Linked DNA regions of Homo sapiens: all the other regions are linked to region 2. The links come from fine-mapping of genetic effects on gene expression. A gene starts in region 2. Each other region holds a variant in brackets. All regions are shown on one strand. Distances are between the middles of the regions. Region 1 holds the start of HDAC3 (histone deacetylase 3). Region 2 holds the start of DIAPH1 (diaphanous related formin 1). Region 3 holds the start of PCDHGA9 (protocadherin gamma subfamily A, 9).

Region 1 (10,718 bases), 19 kb after region 2:
TAAGTGGATTTACCAGCAACCCTTGGCATAATACCTAGCAGAGTAAGCACTCAGTAAATGGTAGCTATCATAAGAAATTCTACAGGATCAACAACCTGGTTTCTTCAAGAAATAAATTCAAGGGGGTGACAGAAAAGCTACAAATTAAAAGTCTTAAGAGACATATCAACCAAATGCACTGTATAGACCTTGTTTAGATCTGGATTTAAATTAGCTACAAAATAATTATGAGACAACTGCAGAAATTTGAATATTGATCCCATATTTGATGACATTAAGGAATCACTGTTAACTTTTTAGGTTTGATAATGATACTATGTTTTTTTAAAAGAGTATCATTTAGAGATACATAATAAAATATTTATGGATAAAAGGATATAACATCTAGGATCTGCTTTAAAACAATCTAACATGAGGGAGTATAGATGAAGTAAGAGTGGCCACTTGCTCAGCTGGGTGCGATGGCTCACGTCTGTAATCCCAGCACTTTTGGAGGCTGAGGCTGGTGGATCACCTGAGGTCAGGAGTTCAAAACCAGCCTGACCAACATAGTGAAACCCCATCTCTACTAAACATACAAAAATTAGCCAGGCATGGTGGCAGGCGCCTGTAATCCCAGCTACTCGGGAGTCTGAGGCATGAGAATCGCTTGAACCCAGGAGGCAGAGGTTGCAGTGAGCCAAGACTGCACCACTGCACTCCAGCCTGGGCTACAGAGTGAGACTCTGTCTCAAAAAAAAAAAAAAAAAAAAAAAGAGTGGCCATTTGCTCATAAGCGTTGAAGCTAGGTGATGGACGTATGGGAGGTCACTGCACTACTTCACTTTCAGAAATTTTTGAAATTTTCCCTAATAAAAAGTTTAAAAACAAAAGTAAGTAGAATTGAGCAACTGGTAGCTGTGATGGTTACTATTTTTTCATGGATATAGAGTAGAGTGTGGCTTATCTTTGTTGTCCACTCTCTTCCCCAGAGGGTCTAACCCTGACTCTTCTATGGATGATACAAGCTCAATGTAAACCTAATGATATCAAACCACTCCTTCGTTGTTTTTTTTGTTTTTTTAACTGCCCATAGCCCTCTTAAGATCCCTTGCTTTTTAAAACACTTTGATAGCTTCCCTCTACTCTACGGGTAAAAACCCCAATTCATAATAGAGCTGTTTGCTTTTAAAAGGTCCTATTTCTTTAGCCTCAATTCAGTTCACCTCCTCTTCATACTCTGCACTTGGCCTTTTTTCTGTTCCTCAAATGAGTCATACTCAGTCCTACCACAGACCCTTAGCACTTGTCCCTACTGCCTGCTATACTTCTCCCCTCACCCTCCAACCATCTTTCATCTGATTACTTCTACTCTTTTTTCAGATCTCAGCTCAATCTTTACTTCCTCTAGGAAGGCCCCACCGACCAGCCACTCCACCAAGCTAAACAATCCTCCACGTATACACTCTCATAATCTGTCATACACCTCCTCTTTATAAGACTTAGCAAAAATACGATATTAAAATTTTGTTTTTGTTCATCACTGCATTCCCAGCACTTAGCACAGGGCCTGCCTAGAACAAGTGACCAATAAATATTTATTGAATAAACAAATAAAATGAATTATGATGCATTGACAAGTAGGCCCCCCTTGAGATCTTCCCACTGCTGCCAAAAGACCTCACTGAAGGGCTTGGCATTAAACTGTTAGACATCAAAACTCCCAGTCCTCCCTCACCAGTCATCGCCTACGTTGAAGGCATTAAGACTCTTGGTGAAGCCTTGCATATTGGTGGGGCTGACTCTCTGCAGGAAGTCAATGTAGTCCTCGGAGTGGAAGCGGCACATGTCATGTTGGGAGGCCTGGTATGGCTTGAAGACCTCGGGATGGAGACACAAGATGAACCCAGGCAGGGTCAGCCCCACTCCACAGGCTCAGACCACCCATACTGAACCCAGTCCTGGAGACTATATGAAGCCAAACATAGCATTCCCCTCATCCCACAATCCTTAAGTCAGTAGAGAGACTCCGATTAACCAGGTAAGTTATTACAAATGAGCCCCCTGAAGACCACTTCTTTTCCTTTCCACCTCCAGCTCAGCCTATCGTACCTTCTCAACTTTGAGCCCTGATCCACCTGCCCTGTTCCTTGGAATCTCCTATTCCCAGTTCTCTCCATGCTCATCTCCTCCCCCAAGCTCTGATTCTGTCCTCTTTCCTCTGGATTCTTCTTTCTGGAGTCAAATATATGGGATATATGTCAACTTTCTAATTAAAATCAAAGATTTATTATCTTTGGAAGGTCAGGGGGATGTGTCACACCTCTTTGAAAACTGCACAAGAAAGAGCTTTTCTTCTCCCAGAAAATGCACACAGGTACATACAGGCAAACAATCTCAAGGGATATAGATTCCTGCACTAACATCACCTCAGTCTTTTCTATGACCAGTCCATTTGTCTGTGCCTTGGCACAAGCAATGAACATTCATTCATATTGTTCACTAGTTTCCCTAGCAACACATAAAGCCTGGGTTTAGCTGTTTTGTCTTATTTTTTCTTTTGAGACAAGGTCCTCCCTGTCAACTCAGGCTGCTGATCATAGATCACTGTAACTTTAAACTCCTGGGCCCAAGCCATCCTCTCGCCTCGGCCTCCCAAGTAGTTGGGACTACAGGCACACCCACCGCACATGGCTACTTTTTTTATTTTTATTTTTTGTAGATGTGGGTCCCACTGTGGCCCAAGCTGGTCTCCAACTCCTGGCCTCAAGCGATCCCCCCCATTTCAACCTCCCAAAGTGCTGGGATTACAGGCATGGGCCACCACGCCTGGCGTGGCTTAACTGTTACTATCCCATATCACAGCCATAAATTCCAAGCTGGGAAGACAGCATGTGTATGTCTGGTAGATGAAAAACTGGATAGCGATTAAGCAGAACCATGTAGAGGTATTCCAGGCTGAAAAAGGAATATCTAAAATATCGCCTCTGTTCCACACGCACATACACATTTACAAAGACGGCAGCATCGTTCCACCCTGGAGCCCTAGCTCCTTGGAGGTAAAGAAAGGTGGTAAAAGAGGAGTGGGAACTGAGGGTAAACCTCACACCCTGATACAGTGATATCCGCTCCCCTAACCCTAATTCCTGAGGCCAAGGCCCTATCCACACTCTAAAATGCAGAGGAGGAACACACCTTCTGTCTTCAAACCAGCCCCACATCACGCTAACCCTAGGCCAAGGGCTAGTGTGCCTACAGTCAGAGGGTGGCCGACCTGAGGTGAGAAAGTACTTTCCATTAAGCAGAGGACGCCACCCCCAACACCCTGCACTTTCAAGGTACTCCTGGTGACTTCTATCCAGCTCCCCGATACTCTAGGGGCGGGTCGCACTTCATGCACTCAGTCCAGCCCACCTATCCCTACGGCCACAGCTCGCCCCACCCCCCAACCCCCGGCCGAGGCGGCGGAACTCACGATCATCTTCTTATAGAGACCGTAATGCAGGACCAGGCTATGGGTCAATGCCAGGCGATGGGGCTTCATAGGGTGTCCAGCTCCTGGGGGTGGGGAGAAGAGAGTTCGTCAGCTCTCACCCCTGGAGTTGCAACCCCGCCTCAAAACCTCCGTGTCCCAACCCCTCATGCATATCCCTGTTTCCTCACCGTAGTGGAAGTTGCCCACGTCGGGGTCGTAGAAATAGGCCACGGTCTTGGCCATGGTGCCGGCGGGAGCAGGCCCCGCACCTCCGCCGCCCGCCGCCCGCGGCCGCCGCCAGCCCCTCCCCGGCCGTGCGTGCTGCGCAAGCACGTAGCCGGCCTCTGCGGAACTGGGCGTTGCGGCCCCGCCTCCATCCACACCCAGGCCACGCCCCCAGGGGAGCTCCGCCCCTCGCCCGGCTCAGCTCTCCCGGTATCTGGGGCTTTGAGCGTCCCGGGTTGGGCAGGGAACTGGCAGCATAGCTCCTAGGATGCGAGGGCCATTTGTCTCCGGCCGGGGGTCAGATCCTCGGGAAGCCGAGCCATCCCATCCAGCCGCTTGCCCCAAACCGGGCGCAGGCCGTGGTCACTTCTCTAGGAAGCTCCGAAGATCCCGCCACTCCGTCCCTCAAAGGTGCGGAAAGCCGGCTTCCCCCAGCCCTCGGAGAAGATTCCTGACTCTCCGCTCGGTCGGGGCATCTGAGGGCAGGAGCTGCGCCAGGCGTACCGGATAGACCAGTGGACAACACCCACGCCGGACCGCCTGTCCCCTACCCGGACCCAGACTCGGCGCCGCACATTGCCCCGGGGGGGCCCGGCGCAGTCACGCGCGCGCAGAGCTCACGCTCTCCGCCCCGCACACCTGCGCTCCGCCCCCTGGTCCTGGGCCCGCGACGGGTGAAGGCATTTGGGAAGCCAGGGCGGCTGCGGAGGCGATCTCCCTGACCCAGGGCCGGAGTTGCCCGGAGCCTGCCACCGCTCTCAGCCAGCCCGCATCCTTCTCTGTTCTTCCCTCCCCCCGCCTGCCACGGCGCGGGTATCCGCAGCCACAGCCCGGGGCCGGTGAGGCGGCGAAGGGGGAGGGGAGGAATCAAGGGATGAGCGCCGGAAGGGCGTCGGGGGCCCTGAGCCGCACTAGGACGCCCCTGGAGCCGGAACCCCAGCAGAAGCCGGAACCAGAACCAAATCACCGGTACCGGGTCGGCCAGGTGGTCAGGGTGGGAGAAACCAAAAAGGGAGAGGGGTGCGGGAGTACTGAGAGGAAGGGGCTGCAGAGGCCTGGCTCAGGCCGGCGTGGAGGAGGTGCGGGCGCTGACTCAGGCAGGATTTCTGCTCCCGCCGCCTAAGAATGCCGTCCCATCTCGTGCTGCAGTGTCCTTGGGAGGGACAGAAGCGCGAACAAGCTGGAAAGGGGAACGCTCGGGGCGTCGGGGAAGCGGGACCAGGGTCGTGGTAGAGAGCTTGCGTTGCCGCTGACCTCTTGCCGAAAGGCGAAACAGCACTCCTGGCCCGGACAGCTCCCTGGTTGGGTAGGGGGTGGGGCCGGACCTCAGCCGGACGTCTTAGACGTGCTTGTTTCAGATCCTGAGGACGGCATTCCTACCCCTCCCCCATTCCCAGCTGCAGCCCCCTAAACCCAGGAGGCGCCCTGGCCCGCGCTCGCCCCCCAGGGCCTCATGTCGGAACCACAGCCTGACCTGGAACCGCCCCAACATGGGCTATATATGCTCTTCCTGCTTGTGCTGGTCTTCTTCCTCATGGGCCTGGTAGGCTTCATGATCTGCCACGTGCTCAAGAAGAAGGGCTACCGCTGCCGCACGTCGAGGGGCTCTGAGCCTGACGATGCCCAGCTTCAGCCCCGTGAGTGAGGAGCCTGGAACCCTGGCTCAGTCACCTTTCACCCTTCTCCCCACACCTCTGCCTCCCTGACCAACAGACCCAGGCCAAATCCTGATCAAACCTGCTCAGGAAGCCTAGTGATGCACTCTTGAGTTAGCAAGTGGGGTGACACCACTCTGAAAGCAAAACTAGAGAAAGCAGCATGGGCAGGAACGGTCCTCTGGATGGTAGTCTTGGGCTTGCATTGGTGTCCCCATCTTTTCTGGTCCCTGAAATGCTGAGGTCCAGCATGATAGCAAGTAGGTAAAAGGGTATGTCCTAAGCAATAAATGATGGGAGCCACCAGGTAATATTCCCCCAAAGCTGACTCATTCCTGCTTCCTTGCCAATCTCTTTCATCCTTCAGCTGAGGACGATGACATGAATGAGGACACAGTAGAGAGGATTGTTCGCTGCATCATCCAGAATGAAGGTGGGTCTAGCATAGCCCCTTGCTCCCTCTTCTCCAACCTTCTCTTGCCCTGACCTCCACCTCCACTGACTCCCTCTTTTCCTTCTTCCCTCAGCCAATGCTGAGGCCTTGAAGGAGATGCTGGGGGACAGTGAAGGAGAAGGGACAGTGCAGCTGTCCAGGTGAGCTGGAAACAAGGGCCAGCATGACTTAGCTTGCCTTGGAGAGTATCCTCTCCTCCAGCACAATCCTCTCCCAGCCTCCTTGCATGTATGGGGTTGGGGGAAGGGCAAAGCTGGCTAACTTATAGGAAGAAAGTTGTTTTGTAGAAATCGCGATTCCTTCAAACCATCTCTCTCATCTAGATATCATCAAGCCTAACATTCACCTCTAGTGCCACTCCTTTGGGTTAAGCAGTGTTCTTTTTAGCAAACAGCCCTGGGAGGAAGAACATATGGTCACTAACATCTTAATATTGAGTTTATTAGATAAAGACAAGAAAAAATGGGGCTTGGGGAAATTGGGGCTTCTGGGGTTTTAAGGAGCATGCTGAAAGAACGTAAGAAACAAAACATGAAGGGAAATGGAAATGTTACCCTCACTCCCCTCCTCCCTGCTGTCCAGTGTGGATGCCACCTCCAGCCTGCAGGACGGAGCCCCCTCCCATCATCACACAGTGCACCTGGGCTCTGCAGCCCCTTGCCTCCATTGCAGCCGCAGCAAGAGGCCTCCACTTGTCCGTCAGGGACGCTCCAAGGAAGGAAAAAGCCGCCCCCGGACAGGGGAGACCACTGTGTTCTCTGTGGGCAGGTGGGGCAGGTGCTCCAGGGAAAGGGGGGCTGAGGTAGGGGGCCCAGTGATCAGGCACCTGATCCCAAAAGTGGGCCTTGGCTCTTTCCTCCTGGACTGGGAGCTCC[G/A]GCAGAAGTCAGGCTACACAATGTGCCCCACAATCTGAGAAGGCCTCCCCTACCTTAGGCCAGAGGGAAGTAGCCACCAAACTCAGGATGTCCCTGGTCAGAGGGGAGGGCCAAGCAGCCTCTGAGTTGTGGTCCTAAACCCCAGTGTTCCCTCCCCTCCCAGGTTCCGGGTGACACACATTGAGAAGCGCTATGGACTGCACGAACACCGTGATGGCTCCCCCACAGACAGGAGCTGGGGCTCTGGTGGGGGACAGGACCCAGGGGGTGGTCAGGGGTCTGGGGGAGGGCAGCCCAAGGCAGGGATGCCTGCCATGGAGAGGCTGCCCCCTGAGAGGCCACAGCCCCAGGTCCTAGCCAGCCCCCCAGTACAGAATGGAGGACTCAGGGACAGCAGCCTAACCCCTCGTGCACTTGAAGGGAACCCCAGAGCTTCTGCAGAGCCAACACTGAGGGCCGGAGGGAGGGGCCCAAGCCCAGGGCTGCCCACTCAAGAGGCAAATGGGCAGCCAAGCAAACCAGACACTTCTGATCACCAGGTAGGAAAACACAGCCGGGACTGCACTGGGCTGGGCTCTTATTGCTCTCTACTCTGGGGGGCACTGATAGGACCTACTCCTGGTCTCTCATTGTTGACCCCTCCCCTTTCTCTCAGGTGTCTCTACCACAGGGAGCAGGGAGTATGTGAGGTGAGTCTGCCTGAGCCCTAAATGAGGTAATCTCATCTTCCCATCACCTACTTAAACTATTTAAGCCTTTCGGCTCCCTGAACCCCCCGAGTAAACTGCAGGCTTAGCCTTTGCTATAAATCCCTTGGTTTGGTGGTGGAGGTAGGGAAGGTCCTGGAGCCCCAGGGGAAAAGCTGGACACAGCTTGAACAGGAAGCAACAGTGTTATTCTTCCTCTTCTCCAAGTCTCCTTCATTGTGCTGATGGACTACCAGCTGGCAGGGCCAGGGGGTGGGTGGGCGTGAAAGCCCTCCCCTCCACTGGACAGCACTGCCCCCCAGCTGAGGGACCAGCTCTACTTCCACCTGGAGTTGCACAGTCTCAGGCTGGGGGCCTCAGGAGAGGTCACAGCCCCTCAGTCTCTTCTCCTTCCCCTGCCTGCAACAGGCTGCCTGCCCCGCCTTCCCCAACACCTCGCTCCATATGATAGAGCGTGGCAGCTGGGAGCAGGCCCCTGCCCGTGGTGGGCCCCTAAAGCAATAGCACCGTAGGCCCCCTGCCCTCTTAGCACAAGAGGCCCAGGCCCTGGCCTGGCCTTCGTGCCCTTTATTCATTGTCAATAAATCCGCTCAGACCATTACAGCTGCTTCGCATCCTGGCTCCAGCTCCTGATTCCCAAGGCCTGTTCCTCTCCCCAGCCCAACCCCAGTGACCCTGGCATCCAGAGTGGGGTGGGTCATGGAGCCAGGGTGGGGAAAGAGGTGGGCCAGAACTACTAGAGACCTTGATGGATGGTTTCCAGCCCCAGAGATTTCAGGCATTTCACCACCCTAGATAGGGTCATGACAGAAGAGAAGGTAGTTCCGGTCCTAGAGATGATAGAACAATGGGAAAAAAAGGAGTGGGTTCCAGCTCTAGAAATGGGAAGGGGCAAGTTTCCACCCTTGGAGGTGAGGGTGGAAATAAGGGCGATTCCAGCTTTTGGCTGTGTTGCTCTGGATCATTGATGGTGTGGTCTGACAGCTTGAAGATAGGGACAGCAGCATCACTGGGGGTCAAGGCTTCCCTGGCCTTCAGGTGAGGGGATCTGGGTGGCCAGGATCCGGGGCTTTAGCCGGCGGGGGAGGTGGTGGACGCATCTGTAGGGAACACACAGTTAGTGCTCCAGAGTTCTCCCTTAAGGGTATCCCTGTCTATTCCCTCAGCCCTGCAGACAAAACAGGACTGGTTGGAATAACCCCTCTACATACAATCTCCTCCAAGGCAAGGGCCCTTACCGGCCTGAGTCGAGGTGCCATCATGTCCAGGAACCCAGGGAAGTCCAGGGCTTTGTCTGGAAATAAGAACCACAAGTCAGTCTTCAGACTTTGTTTTGTTCAATGCTGTATCTCCAGCACTTAGGACAGTGGCATTCTATAAATATTTGTTAAATTAATGGTCACCATCCTAGACCATAAAATCCATCACTCTATCCACTGTCCTCAACATTTATTGGGCAACTGCTGTATAATCAGCTCTGCTCAAGGTACAAAACTAAGGGAGATAGGATGCATAGTGCTCCCACCCCCAATGGCTGTCAAGAAACCAATAATGAAACCTCAACAAACACAATAAATGACTAAGTGCTAAGTCATGCAAAGTGAACTTGGGGTGGTGGAGATGGTGGTAACTCCAGGGAGGGAGACTCCTTGTGGACAAGGTGGAAGTACCAGAAAGTTTTAGAAAAGGCAGGCATTCCACAGCCATAAAAAAGAATGAAATCATGTCCTCTGCAGCAACATGAATGGAGTTGGATGCCATTATCCTAAGTGAACTAACTCAGAAACAGAAAACCAAATATTGCATGTTCTCACTTATAAGTGGGAGCTAAACAACGGGTACACATGGACATAGAGATGGAAATAACAGACTCCCAGGACTCCAAAGGGGGCAAAGGTAGGAGTAGAGGCAGGGGCGAGGGTTGAAAAATTACCTATCAGGTACAATGTTCACTATTTGAGTTACAGGTACACTAGAAGCCCAATCTCCACCAGTATGCAATATATCCATATGACAAACAAGCACATGTACCTCCTGAATCTAAAATAAATAATAAAATAAAACTGCTATAGACATTTAAAAAAGAAAAAAAGTGGGCATCAGAAAAAATAATGATACAAAGCTAGGTATCTGGACACTAGGAGCAAAAGGTGCATATTGGGAGGACACCGTGAGAGAAGTTAGCTAATTTTTAAAATAATAACAGTGACTGCATACTTACTGTGTGCCAGGCACAATGCTGTGTAGTCCACAGGCATCTTTTTTAACTCTCATAAGAATTCAATAAGCTAGTACCTTTTCCTTACCTCATAAAGAACATAAACTGAGGCCAAGACAGGTTCAGAATCCCACCACACACTTGGAGATGACAGAGCGGGACCTGAACCAGTCAGCCTGGCTCCAGAGCCCAGGCAAGTGCTCTCCACCAAGCAAGATGCCTGAAGGCACGGAGAGGACCAGAGCGTGACCTGGGAGTCCAAGCTTCCTCCTTCTTCCTGTCTGTTAGCCTCCCAAGGCTCCCAGTTCCTTCCACTCACCCCCAGGCAGGACAGGTGCAGGGGGCCCATCCAACACAGAGGTAGGTGCAGGTGGGGAGAAGCTGGGAGGAGAAGGGGACGGCAGCATCTGGAGGTGGGGTGGGCACAGAGTTATTCCTGGCATGTGGGGAGGTTTTACCAGCTTTTCCTCTCATCCCATCTCCAGTTCCTTCCTCATCACTTCTCAATACAGGAAGTGGCCAAATGCTTGCATTCGGTGGGGGGGTGTAGCTGACAAATATTTCAACAGCCAATATGTATTGAACGCTTATGTTTACTATGTCTCAAGTGTTCTGCTAGCACTTCACGTGTACCAATTCATTCAATCCTCACCACTACCCCATGAGGTAGGCATTTTTAATAATATGACTCCTATGTTAGAAGTGAGACCCAGGTTAAGCCAGCTGTCCAAAATCACGAAGCCAGTTATTGGCAGAGTGCTGGCTAGAACCCAGTTCTCCTGATGCCCACTCCTATTCTCTTTCTGCTGTATGTATATACATTATAACAACAGATATCTTATATTGAAACACCTTCTGCATTCCACTGCACTAAAGGCTTTGCCTCGGCGGGGCGCAGTGGCTCATGCCTATAATCCCAGCACATTGGGAGGCCAAGGCAGGTGGATCACCTGAGGTCAGGAGTTTGAGACCAGCCTGACCAAATGGAGAAACCCTGTATCTACTAAAAATAGAAAATTAGCCGGGCGTGGCAGCACGTGCCTGTAATCCCAGCTACTCGAGGGGCTGATACAGGAGAATCGTTTGAACCCGGGAGGCAGAGGTTGCGGTGAGCTGAGATCGCACCATTG
Region 2 (10,718 bases):
ACATCCAATGCTTTGCTGGTAGCATAAAATGAATTTTTTGCCTACTGCTTTCAAACAAAGGTAATTGAGAAAAGGAGGCTCAATGAAAAAAGAAAACCACTTAAGTAATACAAAGTTTGTTTCAAAATGGGGATGATTTTTGTAGCCATAAATAATTTCAGCTACTGGGACATAAAAAGGGATATATAAACCTGCATATACAAACTCTTTGCTTCTCTATAACATCTAGTATTTATCAATAAAAATTATTTTAACCTGTTCTTCTAAATCATATGTGACATACAACTTATCTTTTAAATCTCTATTACATTTCATGGAAGATATATAACACTCCCTGAGAATAGCCTGGCAATACATTTATAAAATACCAAGGGCCTTGGGGAATAACAAAAGGTGATTCTAAGACACAGGAAATAAAATTATTCTGACCCGTGCACCCATCAACAAAATTAAATCATGTCTCACTATTTTCTTAGCTTTCATAATAAACATAATTTACGGGTCATAAAATTTTCAGCTTTTTAAAAAAATTTACCAACTCTCCCAAGGCAGAGATTTTAATTCTAAGGCATTCCCTCACTTTCACCTCCTGTGAGGGAGAATTTTCTTTGAAAAAGTACAGGTAACCATACCAAGTAGACTCATGATCTGTCCTTAAGACAAGGCAGGAAGAATGGCGGAAATCTTTAAGCTACCATTCTGTCATCTCAAACATCTCACTAACGTTCCTGTAGGCTCCCCTCCCTCTTTCCAAACTATATAATCCTTGCGTTCATCATCTGTTAAAAAAAAAAAAAGGTGTACAAAGCGCTCTGTATATTTTTCAGTTTTCTGCAAACTTTTGCAAAGCTCTCTGTATATTTTTCAGTTTTCTGCAAACTTTTGGATTAAAGTTAATGTTTTAAGAGGATATAAGCAGAAATCTGCACGAACAACTCCACTTCTTTCTGCCTGGCATCCTTTAATTTGTCTCCTTTTGGACAGGAGTCTACTACTAAACATTTATACTCTATTACTTTGCATTTAGAAGACCGTGTAACTGCAACATGATCATAACTCAATATAGGAATCCAAAATTAAACTAATTTTAATAATTTTAATAATAGTAAAAATCATTCTCTTGGCCGGACGAGGTGGCTCACGCCTGTAATCCCAGCACTTCGGGAGGCTGAGGCTGGCGGATCACGAGGTCAGGAATTTAAGACCAGCCTGGCCAACATGGTGAAACCAGTCTCTACTAAAAATACAAAAATTAGCTGGGTGTGGCGGCGTACACCTGTAATCCCAGCTGCTTGGAAGGCTGAGGCAGGAGAATCGCTTGAACCCGGGAGGTGGAGGTTGCAGTGAGCCGAGATCGCGCCACTGCACTGCAGCCTTGGACACAGCAAGACTCGTCTCAGAAAAAGAAAAAAAAAAAAAAAAAAAAAGGGCCGCACGCGGTGGCTCACGCCTGTAATCCCAGCACTTTGGGAGGCCGAGGTGGGCAGATCACGAGGTCAGGAGATCGACAACATCCTGGCTAACACGGTGAAACCCCGTCTCTACTAAAAATACAAAAAAAATTAGCCAGGCGTGGTGGCAGGTGCCTGTAGTCCCAGCTACTGGGGAGGCTGAGGCAGAAGAATGGCATGAACCCGGGAGGCGGAGCTTGCAGTGAGCTGAGATTGCACCACTGCACTCCAGCCTGGGCAACAGAGCGAGACTCCATCTCAAAAAAAGAAAAAAAAAATTCTCGCTAATGCTCCTAGTTAAATCAGGAAGCAATATTCTCTCTTACAATGCATCACTTTCTCGATTATATGAGAGTGCATACAAAGTCTATTAAATGTAAGAATACTCTGCAGCCTCCTAACATCCCGGTTCTACTTATTCCCCTTACGTATATTTTGGAAATCAGTCTATTTGACACCCACATTGATCACTGCTGAAAAGTCAGAAAACCCTCTGTTCACCTAAAATTTTTATTTTCCTTCATCTTAAGGACTTGTGAAAGGAAATGGAATAATGCCGGAGAAGGGGTATGCTCATGGCCCAGGAGAAGACAGACTCATGAAGAACCAAGGGGTAATACCAGGCAGCCTGGCTTCAGCCACTCACTGTCAGCACGTCTAACAATCATGTGTTTTTAAAAGATGATGCCCAACCACTTTTAAACTGAGGGTCCATCTCCTTTCCACACAAGATGCCTCAGAGGGTAAGAGCAGATCTCAGACAATTTGTGAGCTCTGTGTTCTCACCAGTTAATCCGTATTTAGAACCTGCATAAGCCAGGAAAGGTATGTAGCAGCTAAAGGAATTATAAACCCTCAAATGCAAACAACCTTCGGGCACACTTAGTCCAAACCAGTGCAGTTTTATACAGTACATTCTTAATGGAGTTCCAGAGGACACATACTCTAGAAAAGGTGGAGGCGGCGAAAGACCTTTGAGTTCAGTTTTAGCCTATAGTTCAAGAAAACTAAGCCACGGGTATCAAAAGCACACCAGCAATCTCGCCCACTCCACCCACCCACGTATACATACACAGACACAAAGAGAAGTGGATTGCAATGCTCCTCCTCATCTCTCATTTCCACAGAGTTCTCATAAAAGGAGCAAGAGGAAGAAAGAATATTCTGATGCCTTGAGATAGGTTACATTTGGCAATAAAAGGGTTAAGCAGCACTACTTTCCTAGAAACCTTCCAATTCCGTAGCTACTAATGCAATTTTCCTCATTACCTGAGCTATTTAGTTTTAAAAATTCAGCAGATTAAGGGTTAAGACTAACACCGCAGAAAGAAAAGAGAACTTGGTTCAGCTCCATCCTCTCTAAAGCAAATACCTACAACCCTGAGCCAAATCCATTAAACATATAGAAGACTTCATGGACATTCCAAAAGACAGGTGAAAAGGGGTTGAGCTTCCTCAGGTTTCTCACCTTACAGTACCACACACATAGTAGACTTCACAAGTTCGTGAAATAATTGTTAGATAAAATAGAGTACATATAAAATTCTACTCAAGACATGAAAACAAGTCACTGAGGTCACCACAAGTCAGCAGCAATAGCTGGAATTTGGGTGAGGAAGGTCAAACAGTACTCATGGAAATAAAATCAAAACAAAAAGATACAGAAATAGAAGGAATATGAGCCCTAGAACTTAAGTTTTGGAAGGAAAGCTAACGGGGGGGAGGGGTCAATTCTTATCCTAAAGAAACATACAAAAATGCTGCTTTAGTCACCAAAGAAGGAGGGGGTGTCAATACCCTTAACCTTATATTTCTAGGGGGGGAAAAAAAGATGTTCACCAGATAAAAACAGATGGTTACTGACATCTCAGATATCACTGGAAAGGGCAGTCCAGGAGCACTTGGTCTTGCTAGAAATAGGAAGAGATGAGTCACTATTTTAATTCTATTTAGAATTAAACATCTAACCCTCCAGGGTTAACATCTCAACCCTCTAGGTCATAAAACAACATTTTCTTCCTGTTTCCATCGCTTTATCAGTTTTCTTCCCAAATTTGTGGAGCTGGGTCAAAATGTTGGGAGGTGGGACTAAGAGTTACAAGCCATTTGTTTAGTAGAAAGATACACTAGTGTAAGGGCATAAATACCTGGAAGAGAAGACAAAAGAGCTACAGTTATAACTAGCTATTATAATGATCATCAATATCCAAGACTTTTCCTCTCCTGGACAGTGCCCCGTATCTTACAAAGCTTTTATAGCAAAAAAGCAACCAAACGGCTCCCTGGAGAGAGGCGTTGGTGTGGGCAAAAGGTAATGAAATATGATAGGGTTACATGTATATCACTATTCCTTCACTCGGATTGAAAGTAACTGGCACTTGAGGAAAGCTTACTCTTCTACAGGCACGCAAAGGGAAGCCGATAGTCGCCTTGGGGCACAAGAGGCAGTAGAAAAGGAGTAGAGGAGACGGTTATCATGGGAAATGTATAAAAAACAATTCAATTACAAACTTCTTGAACTCGCAGTCCAACTTTCTTCCCACAGGAGAGGTTTATCACCATCCTAGGTCAAGAAGGGCACAATCATGAGAGTTCTAATCCTCTGAAAAGTGATAAGCAACAGGGCAAAGAGAGAGGTTCTCTGGAGAGAGGAATACTGGTAAACAAATAAACGTCATGCCCCAGTGACCATAGGACCTGGGCAGGAGCCCATTCCTGTAATCGCAAGGACAAACGTCCAAAGAAGGAGTTGGGGGTAGGGCTCAAGTCAGGTAACATTCCTCAGGGGAAGGATTATCAAGTGACACCGGGCGGAGGGCCCACGGGGGACTGGGCGGGAGGAAAGTTAGCAGGTAAAAAGGATGAATCATGGAGAAGGAAGTGACCTTTAGGAGAAGGAAATACGAGAATACCAAAAAAGGTGTAAGGTTAAGAAGAGAAAATGGACCCAGAAGAGGGGACCAAAAAAGAGGAGGCGTGTTCGGGTACTGGAGGAAGAAGAAAGGAAGTGAGGCTGAGAGGGGAGAGACGGGGCTGAGAGCCGGCCGGGGATATGCGGGCGGGAGGGCAGAATGTAAGGGCTGGGGAACGAGGGAAGCCCCGAGGTGGCCGGGGCAAGAGCCGGGTGGGATTCCGGGGCTTCCCGAGGTCCCGAAGGGAGAGGATGTCGGGCTGCAGAGCTGCGGACCGAGCGAAACGAGGAAGGAAGGCGCGGGGGCGGCTCCCCAAAGCCGGGCAGGCGCCCCAGGGGCCGGCTGCAGGGGTCCAGAGGGCGGTTACGGGGCCAGGCAGGAGCGGGATGGGAGGGACACTCACAAATTTCTTAGATTTGCCGCCGTCGCCGCCCGCCGAGGGCAGCTCATCTGGGCTCCGGCCCTTCTTCTTGTCCCGGGTCCCGCGGCCGGGCCCCAGGCTCCCGCCGGGCGGCTCCATGTCCCGGTTCACGCTGGCCGGCGACCCCGCGCCTACGCCGCTCCCGCCTGGCAGCTCCGCGCCCGCCGCCGCCCAGTCGCTCTTTAGCCAGCCGCCGCGCCCCGCCTCATTAGCATGCCGGGCTGCGCGCGCCTCATGAATATACAACGACGACGCCTCGCTCCCGCCCGCCTGCCCCACTTCCGCCCGGACCCGCAGCCCCTACCAATGGGGGAAGGGAGAGGGGCGGAGGGAAGCCGCGGAAGCGCGCTACCTGCCCAGCGGACCTAACCATTCGGACCCACGTGGGGGGGGGTGGTGAGTGGGCGGTGCAGCTCTCCGCGGCCGCGGCGGAGAGCACCGCCCCCTGGCGGTTGGAGCAGCGCAGGCCTCTGGCTCCCACGCAGCGCCCACGTGGCTGTACAGCCTGACAGCCTGGACCCTCTCACATCCCAGACCAAAAATCGCGTGAGACCATTATCCTGGCAGAAAATTAGTGACAGGTTTTCCAAGAGAATGCAGTTTTCAATGTGTGCAATACCCATGGAACACATGAAAAAAATTATAGTGATAGCCACCATGTTTTGAAAGCAAGGTAGCAAGAACAGAGCTCGGTCCAGGGCAAGCACTAGACTAAACCAGACTCGCTCTGGAGTTTAATTTCCTAGTTCGAATTCCAGGTTAGGTACCATCTAATTGTTTCTAATCAGGACAAACTAATTATTGCCAACATGTGCCTAAACAGCAATAACAGTTACCACTTAACCATGCCCTTTGCTCTCTGCTAGGCACTAGGCAAACACTCTACATGTATTTTTCTAAGTCCCCACAGTCCCATGTGATAGATTCTGCTAGCCTCACCATTTTATAAATAGTAAATTTGGACTTTTGAGAGTTGAAGTGACTTGCCCAAGAACGCATAATTGATATAAAATTTAAACCCAGCTTAGTCTGATTTGCTGCCAAACCCTATGTTTAACCAGGATTCCCCACTGACATAAACCAAACATGAGTGAAAAGAATGAGTATTCTCCAAGAGTATATTCTTTGCTCTTCTAGCATGACTTTCTCCCTAAGCAATTTCATCCATTCTCCCAGCTACATCTGTCCCTTGTGTGACAGTTACGTGGCTACCAGTCGGCCTTCACAATATGGACTGAATATTCTTGACCACAGCTAGCAAGATTTCAAGCATAAGTTCCTGAAGGGCAGAGTCAGTGACTTACTTACTCTAGAGCCCCAGTACCTAGTCAAGGGCCTGAGATATACCAGGGACTCTGCCAAGCTGGCTGGCTCCTAAATTTGGCATTCATCTCTCTTGTGGTCCAGACCTTCTGATGGTGATCGGATAGAATGTTACATAGAGCTGTCCATCCCATACTTCAAACTTGACTTAGTGCTGAGCTTTCCAGACATTTTGTCTAAAAAGTCCAAAAGCTACTTTCTAAGCTAGTGTTGAGAACAGACAGAATCAGAGAATGGAGGGGAGGAAGTGACCCATCTATCAGTCCTCTTTCTTGTATCAGTCTGTATCTGCTACAATATTTATCATACTACTGACTGGAATGTAAACTCTTCTAGAGAAAGGTTCATGTTTGTGGCTACTACAGTATTTAGCATTGTTCTTCACATAGACAGATAATGGGCAACTTCTTCTGTCAGGCACTGTGCTAAGCACTTAACATGTTTTATCTCAGTGTATCTTCACCAACTAGCATCACTACTCTAAACACCCAGATTCAAAAACCTGAAGTCATCTTCTACTCCTCTCAAATCTGCCCAGGTTTGTCTAACTCTTAACCAAAATCCTCTATTAACTTCTTATATTTACAATAATAAATGTAGAATACATACACAGGGCCTAACGTAGGATAAGTGCTGAATGAATGTTAACTATGCTTTTATTACATGCATCATCATGCCCATTTCCCTCTCCTTTCATAAATAGGAAACTAGCAAGAATTAACATTCCTAGAAAGGCGAAAGGTACAAAAAATACCGACTTAGTTTATTGGATAAAAACAGTGGTAAAATGGACATAAAGCCAAAAGTGAGAACAGAACATTTTCATATCCTCCCCACACTTGAAAACATACTTCCCATCATCTGGGATTCAGGTGTTAGGGAGCCAGAGCCCCTTCCAAATCTCTCTCTCTTCATCTTCCCTGGAAGCAAGGGGAGGAAGAAGTCAGAACCCAGGGGAGGAGGAAGTCAGAGGCAATCTCAGTCCTTGTCTACCCGTTCATCCCTCAAAAATCTCTGGGTTCGAGGGAAGCAGGGAAGAAATAAGGGGCAAGGGGGGCTAGGGACTGGCCTCCAGGGCCCACTGCCAATAATGTCCCAGATAGCTATCCTTGTCTGTATCTCATCCCTAATAGGTACCATTGTCAGGCCTTGGGAGAGAGAGGAAAAGCAGGTAGATGGTTCGAGAACCAAATGTGGTCTCCAGACTCTTTCCCAGAGTCAGCAAAAGCCCTGGGGTGACCCCCAGGACTCTAGGAGCCACTCCTTTTCCCTCCAGCCCAACCAAGAGGTGAAAAGAAATTCCTTGGGACACAGCATCCCAAGCCACTCTTAAATCTCCACATCGCTTTCCTTGTCATTGTCATGGTCTCCATCATAGAACTCATTGGGTGCCTCTGGCCTGCAAAGCAAGGGGAGAGAGGTCAGGATCTCACTCTAAGTTCTAATCTTCTCCCAGCACCCTTTTCCAAAGCCATTTCTCAGGCCCCGTTGAGAACCACTCCTCCTCTTGTTGGTAGAGACTGCTATTCATTCACCCATTCACGTATCAAATAAACATTAAGGAACTACTCTATACAGACACTGTCATAAACCTTAGCAATACAGTAGAGTAACAAGCTGGACAAGGTTGTCTATCCTCAAAAAGCTTACCTAATAAATGAGACTAGTAACTAACAAAGTAAATAAATATAATAATTTCAGATGATGGAGAGTACAATTAATAAAATGAAGTGATAGGACTGAAGGTGATGAGAGGAAAAGGGTGAAATTTCAGACAGGACTATTGGGACATAAGACCTAAAGTCTGAGGAGGAGCTAAGCAGGCAAAGACTTCAGGAAGGCCATTCCAAGCTGCAAGAAAACCAACTACAGAGGTCATGAAATGGAAAGAGACTGATGTATTCCAGTAAGAACAAGGAGGCCAGGACAGCCGGGAGCACTGTGCATGGAGGAGAGTAGTTAGAGATGAGATCCTGGATGTAGGTAAGGGCTAGCATGCAGGACCTTTTTAAGCCACAGTCAAAATTTTGGATTTTCTTCTAAGTGCAAGGTAAAGGAGAGTTTTAATTTTAAGAAGAGTGACGTGGTATTATAAACCCATAGTGAAAGAATGGATGTGAAAGCAAAACAGGGCCCAACAGGTACTCAATATTGGTTTCTTTCTTTTTGAAAAAGTATTCTCAAAAGCCGGGCGTGGTAGCTCACACCTGTAATCCCAGCACTTTGGGAGGCCAAGGCAGGTGGATCACAAGGTCAAGAGATCAAGACCATCCTGGCCAACATGGTGAAACCCCGTCTCTACTAAAAATACTAAAGTTAGCCGGGTGTGGTGGCACATGCCTGTAATCTCAGCTACTGAGGAGGCTGAGGCAGGAGAATCGCTTGAACCTGGGAGGCGGAGGTTGCAGTGAGCCGGGATTAGCCACTGCACTCCAGCCTGGCAACAGAGTGAGACTCCATCTCAAAAAAAAAAAAGAAAGAAAAGAAAAAGTATTCTCTGGGACACAGAGAATTGAGAAAGTCATCAAAGAGAAGCTGAGGCACTAAGCCAGGAAAGGCCTTATCTGCATGGTGAGCAATGTCTCAGTTACTTCTAAGTGCACAGGGTTAAAGGTGTGGAGTCAGAGAATCAGGTTGAATCTCAGCCCTGATCTTTAACTAGCCATGTGACCTTCAGAAAGTTACTTAAGTCTCGCCGGGGGCGGTGGCTCACACCTGTAGCCTGTAATCCTAGCACTTTGGGAGGCCGAGGCAGGCAGATCACCTGAGGTCAGGAGTTCGAGACCAGCCTGACTAACATGGAGAAACCCCATCTCTTCTAAAAATACAAAAAAAATTAGCCAGGCGTGGAGGCTCATGCCTGTAATCCAGCTACTTGGGAGGCTAAGGCAGGAGAATCGCTTGAACCCGGGAGGCAGAGGTTGTGGTGAGCTGAGATCATGCCATTGCACTCCAGCCTGGGCAAAAAGAGCGAAACTCCGTCTCAAAAAAAAGAAAGAAAGAAAGTTACTTAGACTCTCTGAGCCTTAGATTCCTCCCGTGTTAATCTGAAAATAAGAGCCATCAGAGTTGTCTGATGGCAACAGAATGATCATATATATGTTGTAATAGATAGCACTTAGTAGTGTCTGGTGCTTGGCAAACCTACAAAAAGTGGTAACTCTTCCTATTTCTACTCTGCAAGTCATATGCAAGCTGGAGCTATAGGCATCAAAGAAGAACAGAAACTCAGTGGGTGGCCTGACAGAGAGGTAGGGCTTAGGAACAGGAAGAGGCCTGAGGCTTCTGCTGGCTGTGACAGGGCTTGGTATTATTATAATGCAGAGACTAGGTCCAGATGCCAGCCTGGAGCTATTGATAAAAAACCCAAAAGGAAGAACTTAAAAACAGGTTTTACCAAACCAAACCAGACAATGAAAAGCAATTTCCAATAGTCCTGGAAGCCCTGAAGCCAGACACTTCCAGATGTTCAGACACTTCCTCACTCAGAAGGGATCGGGGGATATCCTTGGAGGAAGAGAGTTGCAGAGATCCCCAAGAGTCAGAGCAGTAAAGCCCAGGTCCAGAGGAGAGATTCGGAGGCCTGAATTCTAAGACAGAAGCAGATTCTAGAAGGGGCTGAGAAGCCCATCAGGCTCTGCAGCAGAGCCGGCTCAAACCTCTAACCCTGCGTGGGAGCAAGACAGCGTGTCCCACAAGTGTCCAGCTGTGGTTATCCCTCAGTCATGTAAGGAAATCTGTTCCCCATTAAGTGCATCTGTTTCTGCACTTCTTGGTTCTGTTGTCTTTCCCTTTCATTTTTCAGCAAAGTTTTGGGATTAAAAAAAAATTCCATCCTATCCTTTTTCCCCCCTAATTCATTCCATCTACAAATATTTTGTATGTATCTCAGAAAGATAAAGACTTTTAAAAAAAAAAAAAAAACATAACCACAATGCAATTATCCCACCCGAAAAAATTAACAGAGCAAAGAAATCAAAGAGCCTTAGAGAGTATTACGCAGGCAGTGACCTGTCCAGCTCAAGACCTGGAAAGACTGAGAAAAATGCTGGCAAGACTATAGGGTGCTACAGACTTTCTGGACGGCAATTTGGCAGCAAATATAAAAAATTTTAGGCCAGGCTCAGTGGCTCACGCCTATAATCCCAGCACTTTGGAAGGCTGGGGCAGGAGGACATTTGAGCCCAGGAGTTTGAGACCAGCCTGGGCAACAAGGCAAGACTCCGTCTCTACCAAAAAAAAAAAAAAAAAAAAAAAAAAAAAAAAAAATTAGCCAGGTGTCGTGGTGCACACCTATGATTCCAGCTACTCGAGGGGCTGAGGCAGGAGGATCGCTTGAACCCAGGAGTTCAAGATTGCAGTGAGCTATAATCATGCCACTGTACTCCAGCCTGGGTGACAGAATGAGACCCTGTCTCAAAAAAAAAAAAAAAAAAAAAATTAATGCACACAGCCTTTGACCTAGCAGCAACCATTCTACTATCTAACCCACTCAAACAAGAATGCAAAGATGTATAATGTAAGGGGGTTCATTGCCACATTATTATTGTAATACCAAAAAAATGGAAAATAATCTATCCACATAGTAAATTATTATACAGCTGATAAAAT
Region 3 (10,718 bases), 210 kb before region 2:
AAAGCAAAGAAACTGCTAGTAGATGTCTTTCTTCACTGATTTCACTGGTAGTTTTCATCTCTTTCTTATGTTCCTCATATATGCTTTCTTATTCCTACCTAATGGATTTATGATTTTTTGAATCTCCTAAAATTTTATTAAAAATACTATATGTTGGCTGGGTGCAGTGGCTCATGCCTGTAATCCCAGCACTTTGGGAGGCCGAGGCGGTTGGATCACATGGTCAGGAGTTCAAGACCAGCCTGGGCAATATGGTGAAAACCCGTCTCTACTAAAAATACAAAAATTAGCTGGGTGTGGTGGCGGGCGCCTGTAATCCCAGCTACTCAGGAGGCTAAGACAGGAGAATTGCTTGAACCTGGCAGGTGGAGGTTGCGGTGAGCCGAGATCACTCCATTGCATTCCAGCCTGGGCAACAAGAGCAAAACTCCATCTCAAAAAAAAGGAAGGAGAAGGAGAGGAAGAAGAAGAAAAATACTACATGTTATGTGTATGAGAGAGAAAGAGAGAGACTGATTCACTGAACTTAGAAGGTCCAAATCATCCAAATAATTTTCTAAGTTTATCCAGGTTTTCTTGGATGCAAAATCCTTTTCCACCTCTATATAATTACCAGAAGAAACTTACAAAAAAAAGGAAATGCTATTGCCTGAATTTCTCTTGCTCGGAATCCTGACATATTCTTGAAGAAGGGGAAAAAGACACCGGATTTGTCTTATCGTTTGGAGCTTTAAATATAAATGACTGGATGTTTTCTCAACATCCTTGTAGGATGGAAGGTGAATACAGGATTATTCCATTTTTAAGACAAAAACTACTAGTCTTGTGTACATACAAAGCTCCCATTACATGGTATAAGTCTTTTGCTTGGTTTCCCTTAGTATGTGATTCAGTAAATGGGTTCCTTACAAAGTGCTGAGATTTCTTATAATACCACTTACTTTTAACCTTTCAGTAGTTTTCTTTGTTGTATATTTTGTGTTCTTTTTCCCAAATTATTATATAAGTTTAAGTGATGCTTAGAATAATGTTTAAGACCACTTTAAAATTGCATAATTTATTGATGAAGGATTAAAATAGAAACTTGCTTTTCAGTGTATATGCATTTGAATCATTGAAACACAGTCTGTGCATGCATTACATATTCACATTAAAAAACTAAGCATTTTTGAAATAGCAGAAAAGTTTAAGCAATTACAAAAATGTGAAAATTTCCAACTTTAATCCTGTTAATATTTAGCAATATTAGGCGAGAACATCTGTAACTATTGCTGAATTAATATTACTTTTATAATACAAAAATTTAAAATAAACGTTTTTCCAGGAATTTTATCATCAAAATAAACCCCAGAAAATAATTTCAAAGTGGATAATCTATCCTTATATATGTATTAATACAATTATATATTTTACATTTACAAATATATAGGTATAAAAATTAAAAATGAATGTACTTCCAAACAAGATTGCACATAAAAATTACTTCAGAAAATTGTTAAGATACACAGAAAAAATTGAAGCATCATAAAAAGGAAATTATAATAGTTTACATATCTAGAAATAGAGTGCAAAGTTCTACCAAGAATAAGAATAAATTAATATTAAGCAATGGTTTGTGATTTTATAATACACTTACAGAAATTTTATTCCACTTTATTTACAACTCAGATATCTAAAAAATAGATTGCTTTTGAAATACAAATGCAAGAAACAATTGGAGAAATCTAAAATCATAATTAGAAGAGAGTAGTGTTTTCTTTATCAGCCATCTGATATAATGTTACACATCAGTGGGTGTAGTAACGGCTTAGGACTCTGAGCGCCGCTGTTGATCAACTCTAAGCGAAAATCAGGACTCCATCCGGATTTCCAGTTCTGCGGCTACACAAAACCCGGCAGATACCACAAACCTGCTCCCAGGCTGCAGCAAAACTCAGCCTCTTTCTTCTAAGGAAAAGATCACCATACTTTGCAGGGTGGAAGAAAGAACCTGATGAAGCAGCGCGCACAGAGATCCTTTTGAGAAAATTCCAAAGCGAGGCAGCAATGGCAGCTCCAACCAAATGCCAGCTCCGCGGAAGATTAGTCCTGCTATGCTCGCTCCTGGGGATGCTATGGGAGGCCAGGGCCAGTCAGATTCGCTACTCAGTGCCTGAAGAGACAGAAAAGGGCTATATTGTGGGCAACATCTCCAAGGACCTGGCTCTGGAGCCCCGGGAGCTGGCGGAGCGCCGAGTCCGCATCGTCTCTAGAGGTAGGACGCAGCTTTTCTCTCTGAACCCGCGCAGCGGCACCTTGGTCACCGCGGGTAGGATAGACCGGGAGGAGCTCTGTGCTCAGAGCCCGCGGTGTCTGGTGAACTTTAAAGTCCTGGTTGAAGACAGAGTGAAACTGTACGGAATAGAAATAGAAGTAACTGATATTAACGACAGCGCCCCAAAGTTCCAGGCCGAAAGTCTGGAAGTAAAAATTAACGAAATCGCGGTTCCTGGAGCACGTTATCCACTTCCAGAAGCTATTGATCCGGATGTTGGCGTGAACTCCCTCCAGAGCTACCAGCTCAGCCCCAATCACCACTTCTCCCTGAACGTGCAGACTGGAGACAATGGAGCCATAAACCCAGAGCTGGTGCTGGAGCGCGCCCTGGACAGGGAGGAGGCAACTGCCCACCACCTGGTCCTCACGGCCTCGGATGGCGGCGAGCCGCGTCGCTCCAGCACAGTGCGCATCCATGTGACAGTGTTGGATACAAATGATAATGCCCCGGTTTTTGCTCAACGGATTTACCGAGTTAAAGTCCTTGAGAACGTGCCCCCAGGCACCTGGCTGCTTACTGCAACAGCCAGCGACCTGGATGAGGGAATCAACGGAAAAGTGGCATACAAATTCTGGAAAATTAATGAAAAACAATCTCTGCTATTCCAGCTTAATGAAAATACTGGGGAAATATCAACAGCAAAAAGTCTAGATTATGAAGAATGTTCATTTTATGAAATGGAAATACAAGCTGAAGATGGTGGGGGATTGAAAGGGTGGACAAAAGTGCTCATTTCGGTGGAAGATGTAAATGACAATAGACCTGAAGTGACCATTACATCTCTGTTTAGCCCAGTGAGAGAAGACGCACCTCAGGGAACAGTAATTCTTCTTTTCAATGCTCATGACCGAGACTCCGGGAAGAATGGTCAAGTTGTCTGTTCTATCCAGGAGAATCTATCTTTTACATTAGAAAATTCAGAAGAAGATTATTACAGATTGTTGACGGCCCAAATTCTTGACCGAGAAAAAGCCTCAGAATATAATATCACGGTGACTGCAACAGACAGAGGAACTCCGCCCCTGTCCACAGAAATTCACATCACCCTGCAAGTGACTGACATCAATGATAATCCACCTGCTTTCTCTCAAGCCTCCTACTCAGTCTACCTCCCGGAAAACAACGCCAGAGGTACTTCCATCTTCTCCGTGATTGCCTATGACCCTGATAGCAATGAGAATTCTAGAGTTATTTACTCCTTGGCAGAGGATACCATCCAAGGGTCTCCTCTCTCCACCTATGTCTCTATTAACTCAGACACTGGTGTGCTGTATGCTCTGTGCTCCTTTGACTATGAGCAGTTTAGAGATTTGCAAATGCAGGTGACGGCAAGTGACAGTGGAAGCCCACCACTTAGCAGCAATGTGTCATTGAGACTGTTTGTTTTGGACCAGAATGACAATGCCCCAGAAATCCTGTACCCTGCCCTCCCCACTGATGGTTCTACTGGTGTGGAGCTGGCACCCCGCTCTGCAGAGCCTGGCTACCTGGTGACCAAGGTGGTGGCAGTGGACAGAGACTCAGGCCAGAATGCTTGGCTCTCCTACCGCCTATTCAAGGCCAGTGAGCCAGGGCTCTTCTCGGTGGGGCTGCACACAGGTGAAGTGCGCACAGCTCGGGCCCTGCTAGATAGAGATGCGCTCAAACAGAGCCTTGTGGTGGCTGTACAGGACCATGGCCAGCCCCCTCTCTCGGCCACTGTCACGCTCACAGTAGCCATAGCTGACAGCATCCCAGACATCCTGGCTGACCTGGGCAGTCTTCAGATCCCTGCAGACCTGGAGGCCTCAGACCTTACCCTCTACCTCGTTGTGGCTGTGGCAGTCGTCTCCTGTGTCTTCCTCACCTTCGTTATCACGCTGCTGGCCCTCAGGCTGAGGCACTGGCACTCCTCGCATCTGCTGCGGGCTACCAGTGATGGGTTGGCTGGTGTGCCCACCTCACACTTTGTGGGTGTAGATGGGGTTCGAGCTTTCCTACAGACCTATTCTCAGGAGTTCTCCCTCACCGCTGACTCAAGGAAGAGTCACCTGATCTTCCCCCAGCCCAACTATGCAGACACACTCATCAGCCAGCAGAGCTGTGAGAAAAATGAGCCTTTGTGCGTCTCTGTTGATTCCAAGTTTCCTATAGAAGACACCCCTTTGGTTCCGGTGAGTTCATTTTTTTTCTTTCTTTCTTTTCTTTTTTTGTTTTTTGTTTTGTTTTGTTTTTGAGACAGAGTCTTACTCTGTTACCCAGGCTGGAATGCAGTGGTGTGATCTCGGCTCATTGCAACCTCCGCCTCCCAAATTCAAGCGATTCTCCTGCCTCAGCCTCCCAAGTAGAGTAGCTGGGACTAGAGTAGAGTAGCTGGGACTACAGGCCTCCCAAGTAGAATAACTGGGACTACAGGCACGTGCCACCACGCCCGGCTAATTTTTTGTGTGTTTTTAGTAGAGACGGGGTGTCACCATGTTGGCCAGGCTGGTCTTGAATTCCTAACCTCAAGTGATCCACCCACCTCAGCCTCCCAAAGCACTGGGATTACAGGCGTGAGCCACTGCGCCTGGCCCTTAACTTTCTATTATAGTTAGCTTTCTCTTTAACTGTCTGTACTTAAGGTAGTATAAGTTGATATCAGTGTGTTTCTCATCACTTTTCACTGGGCCTAATTGTTGCTCCAACACTGAAAGGAGGCATTTATTAGTTATATTTGCTGATATAACTTTCATGTTCTCATAATAATTAACCTGCTGTCAACGTAAACCATACTTCATGGGGTAGCTCTCAGCCTGCATTGATGTGGGCTTTTTGGGTAGGGTTGCTTCATTGGTTGCAGTGGACTCATATCATAAAATTCTTACTCCTTTTTTTTTTTTTTTAAGAGATGGGGGTGTCATTCTGTTGTCCAGGGTGGAATGCAGTGGTGTGGGTAAAGCTTACTGCAGTCTCAATCTCCTGGGCTTATGCAATCCTCCCACCTCAGCCTTCACAGTAGCTAGGACTGAGGTGGGAGGGCTAGCAAGCTATGTTGCCCAGACTGGTCTCAAACGATCTTCCTGCTTCAGTTTCCCAAAGCACTGGGTGAGGTGTGAACCACCTCACCCAGCAAATTCTTACTCCTACGATCATTTATTCAGGTCATACTATGTTTGTAAGGGTAAACTGATAAAAAGGTAAATGTATTCTTCTTAGAGAAACAGCTGAAAGCCCAGATTTATTGCTTCTATTCTTCCATTTCTATGACAGGAAAACACCTCTTTGAGGTTATATTTTTCAGATCACAAGTGTGTAAAGTCTGTTTGTGTTTACAGATATTTTCTGACGAAGATTCAAACTTCAGTTATCCACTTCCAAACCCTAGTAAACCAATTTTTTCCCTTTAATGGTGAAAGTTGTCACATCTTTTATTCTCATATCTTCAAAGGTCTTAATTTCCTAATGCTTTAATGTTAAATTATGGAGAATAGTAGGACATTCTTCTTTTCTATAGTATATGCTTGCTCAAGAGAAGTTTCTAAGACTGGACACTGTGAAATGACAAAACAAGGAATTAAAAATATTTCTCTCACTTATATATTATTTCTGGCTCAATTCTCCAACTTTTGAGTCTAGAAATGAACTTGCATATCAGATATAATTTAAGAAAATATTCTCAGGAACTGCTGGGAAGATTCTAAAACTATTTTACTGTTTTTAGCTATAAGGAAGAGAATAATGTATTATTTAATGTTATTTTAAACATAGTGTTGTTTCAAATAGTAAATAACATTTCACAAGACATTTGAAAAT[A/G]AGCTTTGAAGTTGACTCAAAATTCTATGCTAAACATGTGATCCATAGATACACTGATGACTGCTGGCATTTCTGTGGAAATGAAGAATTGTTTTATTTGTTTGTAATTATTTGGGTTTCAGTTGCTTTATTTTTAAGAAAAAAAAGCTGAAGTGTCTGGGAATCCTTTATGACATACAGACATTTTAATTATTTCAAACACGTTTTCCCCCTTAAGTGGGTAGCAAAAAAAATAAAGCATACTTCAGGCTCATATTTTTAACCATGCAACAAGAAAATTGTTACAATTTCTGTTCTGAGGAGTAGCCTTCATACTTAGTATTTATAAATATTGAAATGTATGTTAATTTGGGGAAAACATAACAGATATCCATGAAGGCTTGTATGTCATGGTAGGTAGTTACTATTCGATACCACAAAAATGTCTCTTGCCCTTAAAACCAGAACACGAGGCTCACCAGACAGATGACTGAATGGAGTATGGAAAATCTTTATTTCTGTTTTTCTTAGGCTATGTAGGACTTAACTTATTGTGCATTGGTAACAGATTGTAGAACATAAGCTGAAAGATAAAATTCTTGACCTTAATGTCTCATCTTAAAAAGAAGCATTGGTTGACATTCTATATCTCGTATTACTTAAAAATAATGGGGGAGCGCAGTATATATTAAACAAAGATTGGCTTTGTGGTGATCATTGTTGAAGGTGGGGTGATGGCTATGTGAAGGTTCACTATATATACTCCCTACTGTTGTATAAGTTTGAAATTGTGCATAATAGATTTATTTAAAACACAAAGCATAGAAATATCTACTATAATATTATGGTGAGAGCAAAATTTGAGGGGGATGTACACCTGCATTTTCGAAGAATATATACATTTCGGAGACCGAATTCAAAATGAAAAACCGGGCTGCTGTCCCGCACGGAGCCTCTGGGCGCCGCTGTCGGCCAGTGCAGAGCAAGCGCTGACGCCGGGGATCCGTCAGCCTCTGGCCTGGGATTCCCTGCGCAGCCAACAACAGAAAGAAGAAAACCAGCTCCCACACAGAGCCTCCCGGCTGCGCAGACCTTTCCCAGCACAGCGGATTGCCAGCTCCGAGACCCGGGACTCCTCCTGTCCTGGGCCGAATGCTCTTTTAGCGCGGTAGAGTGCACTTTCTCCAACTGGAAAAGCGGGGACCCAGCGAGAACCCGAGCGAACGATGGGAGGGAGCTGCGCGCAGAGGCGCCGGGCCGGCCCGCGGCAGGTGCTATTTCCTTTGCTGCTGCCTTTGTTCTACCCCACCCTGAGTGAGCCGATCCGCTACTCGATTCCGGAGGAGCTGGCCAAGGGCTCGGTGGTGGGGAACCTCGCTAAGGATCTAGGGCTCAGTGTCCTGGATGTGTCGGCTCGCAAGCTGCGAGTGAGCGCGGAGAAGCTGCACTTCAGCGTAGACGCGGAGAGCGGGGACTTACTTGTGAAGAACCGAATAGACCGTGAGCAAATATGCAAAGAGAGAAGAAGATGTGAGTTGCAATTGGAAGCTGTGGTGGAAAATCCTTTAAATATTTTTCATGTCATTGTGGTGATTGAGGATGTTAATGACCACGCCCCTCAATTTGATAAAAAGGAAATACATTTAGAAATTTTCGAATCTGCATCCGCTGGTACACGACTATCGCTTGACCCTGCCACGGATCCTGATATAAACATAAACTCAATTAAAGATTATAAGATAAACTCTAATCCTTATTTTTCATTAATGGTTAGAGTTAATTCCGATGGTGGCAAATACCCAGAGTTATCTCTGGAGAAACTCCTAGACCGGGAAGAACAGAGATCTCATAGCTTGATATTGACTGCCTTGGACGGAGGGGACCCACCAAGAAGTGCCACCGCTCACATAGAAATTTCTGTCAAGGATACCAATGATAACCCCCCGGTTTTCAGCAGAGACGAATATAGAATTAGTCTTAGTGAAAATCTGCCCCCTGGGTCCCCTGTGTTGCAAGTGACAGCCACTGACCAGGATGAGGGGGTCAATGCTGAGATAAACTACTACTTCCGAAGCACTGCCCAGAGCACAAAACATATGTTCTCATTGGATGAGAAAACAGGTATGATTAAGAATAACCAGTCATTTGATTTTGAAGATGTAGAAAGGTACACCATGGAAGTGGAAGCGAAGGACGGAGGTGGTCTCTCTACCCAGTGTAAAGTAATCATAGAAATCCTTGATGAAAACGACAACAGCCCAGAAATAATCATCACTTCTCTCTCTGATCAGATTTTGGAGAATTCACCTCCAGGAATGGTTGTTGCCCTCTTCAAAACACGGGATCTGGATTTCGGAGGAAATGGAGAAGTCAGGTGTAATATAGAAACAGACATTCCATTCAAGATTTATTCTTCTTCCAATAACTACTACAAACTGGTGACAGATGGAGCCCTGGACCGAGAGCAGACACCAGAATACAATGTCACCATCGTAGCCACTGACAGGGGCAAGCCGCCTCTTTCTTCCAGTAGAAGCATCACCTTGTATGTCGCTGACATCAACGACAACGCCCCAGTTTTCGACCAGACGTCCTACGTGGTCCACGTGGCCGAGAACAACCCGCCAGGAGCCTCCATTGCGCAAGTGAGCGCCTCTGACCCGGATTTGGGGCTCAATGGCCACATCTCCTACTCTATAGTGGCGAGTGACCTAGAGCCCCTGGCGGTGTCGTCATACGTGTCAGTGAGCGCGCAGAGCGGGGTGGTGTTCGCGCAGCGCGCCTTTGATCACGAGCAGCTGCGCGCCTTCGCGCTCACGCTGCAGGCCCGCGACCACGGCTCGCCCACGCTCAGCGCCAACGTGAGCCTGCGCGTGTTGGTGGGAGACCGCAATGACAACGCACCGCGGGTGCTGTACCCAGCTCTGGGTCCTGACGGCTCCGCGTTCTTCGATATGGTACCTCGCTCTGCAGAGCCCGGCTACCTAGTGACTAAGGTGGTAGCGGTGGACGCCGACTCGGGACACAACGCCTGGCTGTCCTACCACGTGCTGCAGGCCAGTGAGCCCGGACTCTTCAGCCTGGGGCTGCGCACTGGGGAGGTGCGCACGGCTCGAGCCTTAGGCGACAGGGACGCAGCCCGCCAGCGCCTGCTGGTCGCTGTGCGTGACGGTGGACAGCCGCCACTCTCTGCCACCGCCACGCTTCATCTGGTCTTCGCAGACAACTTGCAAGAGATACTGCCAGACCTCAGCGACCGCCCTGTACTCTCTGACCCCCAGGCTGAACTGCAGTTTTACCTGGTGGTGGCCTTGGCCTTAATCTCAGTGCTCTTCCTCCTCGCCGTGATTCTGGCCATTGCCTTGCGCCTGCGACGCTCTCTCAGCCCTGCTACTTGGGACTGCTTCCATCCTGGTCTCTGTGTCAAGTCTGGACCTGTAGTTCCCCCCAACTACAGTGAGGGGACTTTGCCTTATTCTTATAATCTGTGCATTGCACATACGGGTACAAAAGAGTTTAATTTCCTAAAATGCAGTGTGCCCCTACATTCCAATGAAGACATGGTTTGCAGTGTTTCTCCTGGAGCCTTAATTCCACCTCATGGTGGGGAGGATTTGACTTCACATCCTGAGACTCTGACTTCGGTGAGTTTCTCTTTTTTGTGTGTGATTTATCTAATAGTCTACTAGTTTCTCATATTTTAGGCATACTACTTTATTTTCATATCTAGAATCATATGTTTAAAATCCATAGCTTTTTACAATATTTTCTCAATGTTTTTTCAATTATAGTTTTCACTATGTATTTGGTTCATAAGTTGCTCTATCTTTTTGTAAAATAATGTCACCAGACTGAAGATATTTTGTCTTTGTCTTTTTTTTTTTTTTTTTTTTTTGAGATGGAGTCTCGCACTGTTGCCTAGGCTGGAGTGCAGTGGCGTGATCTCTGCTCACTGCAACCTCCGCCTTCTGGGTTCAAGCGATTCTCCTGCCTCAGCCTCCCAAGTAGCTGGGATTACTGGTGCCCCTCACCACAGCTAAATTTTTTGTATTTTTAGTAGACATGGGGTTTCACTATGTCGACCAGGCTGTTCAGAAACTCCTGTCCTCGTGATCCTCCCACCTTGGCCTCTCAAAGTGCTGGGATTACAGGCGTGAGCCACAATATTTTGTCAAGTTCTGACTATCGAACAGAAGCAGTGGTCTTGGCATCTAAGAAAACAAACAAGTAACCTATCTATTCAAATTTGCGAAGACTTAGTGAATTTACGATATCTTATTTATATATTTTTAAAGCCTAAAAATATTCAGAAGACAGGCCCAGTGGCTCACACCTATAATCACAGCACTTTGATAGGCTGAATCGGAAAGTATCACTTGAGCCCAAGAATTGAGACCAGCCTGGGCAATATAGGGAGACCCCCCATCTCTACTAAAACAACAACAACAAAAAAAAACATTAGCAGAGTGTGGTAGCATTCCCCTGTGGTCCCAGCTACTTGGGAGGCTGAGCTGGGTGGATTGCTTGGTCCTGGGAGGTCAAGGTTGCAGTGAGCCCTGATCTTGCCACTGCACTCCAGCCTGGGCGACAGAGTGCGACCCTGTCTCTAAAATAAATAAATAAATATGCAGGCAGGGCCAAGTGTGCT

Evidence for each region. PIP is the estimated chance that this variant, and not a neighbour inherited with it, causes the effect.
Region 1: its variant is fine-mapped to the expression of DIAPH1 in whole blood (INTERVAL, PIP above 0.99).
Region 3: its variant is fine-mapped to the expression of DIAPH1 in lung (TOPMed, PIP above 0.99). The same link has a PIP of 0.9 or more in whole blood.

Annotation. Positions count from the first base shown.
Region 1 is chr5:141,633,094-141,643,811 of GRCh38, forward strand. It overlaps HDAC3 (histone deacetylase 3), which reads right to left and starts at 3,756. Exons shown (of 15, transcript NM_003883.4): 1 at 3,643-3,756; 2 at 3,455-3,537; 3 at 1,718-1,860. The coding sequence starts at 3,697. RELL2 (RELT like 2) reads left to right here and starts at 3,904. Exons shown (of 7, transcript NM_173828.5): 1 at 3,904-5,316; 2 at 5,702-5,767; 3 at 5,862-5,928; 4 at 6,371-6,556; 5 at 6,827-7,202; 6 at 7,319-7,352; 7 at 7,578-7,971. The coding sequence starts at 5,133. The coding sequence ends at 7,351. It overlaps FCHSD1 (FCH and double SH3 domains 1), which reads right to left. Exons shown (of 20, transcript NM_033449.3): 18 at 9,908-9,995; 19 at 8,609-8,664; 20 at 6,209-8,470. The coding sequence ends at 8,405. RefSeq lists enhancers at 1,076-1,205, 4,443-4,492, 5,193-5,312 and silencers at 3,229-3,523, 3,533-3,582, 3,643-3,932. The variant G/A (reference allele first, on the strand shown) is at 6,664.
Region 2 is chr5:141,614,032-141,624,749 of GRCh38, forward strand. It overlaps DIAPH1 (diaphanous related formin 1), which reads right to left and starts at 4,969. Exons shown (of 28, transcript NM_005219.5): 1 at 4,767-4,969. The coding sequence starts at 4,883. HDAC3 (histone deacetylase 3) reads right to left here. Exons shown (of 15, transcript NM_003883.4): 15 at 6,850-7,506. The coding sequence ends at 7,437. RefSeq lists silencers at 4,547-4,743, 4,554-4,603, 4,664-5,323.
Region 3 is chr5:141,400,907-141,411,624 of GRCh38, forward strand. All of the region lies in intron 1 of PCDHGA1 (protocadherin gamma subfamily A, 1), which reads left to right. All of the region lies in intron 1 of PCDHGA2 (protocadherin gamma subfamily A, 2), which reads left to right. The region is part of intron 1 of PCDHGA3 (protocadherin gamma subfamily A, 3); the gene reads left to right. All of the region lies in intron 1 of PCDHGB1 (protocadherin gamma subfamily B, 1), which reads left to right. It also overlaps PCDHGA4, PCDHGB2, PCDHGA5, PCDHGB3, PCDHGA6 and PCDHGA7, and 6 more genes. RefSeq lists an enhancer at 7,524-7,573. The variant A/G (reference allele first, on the strand shown) is at 6,092.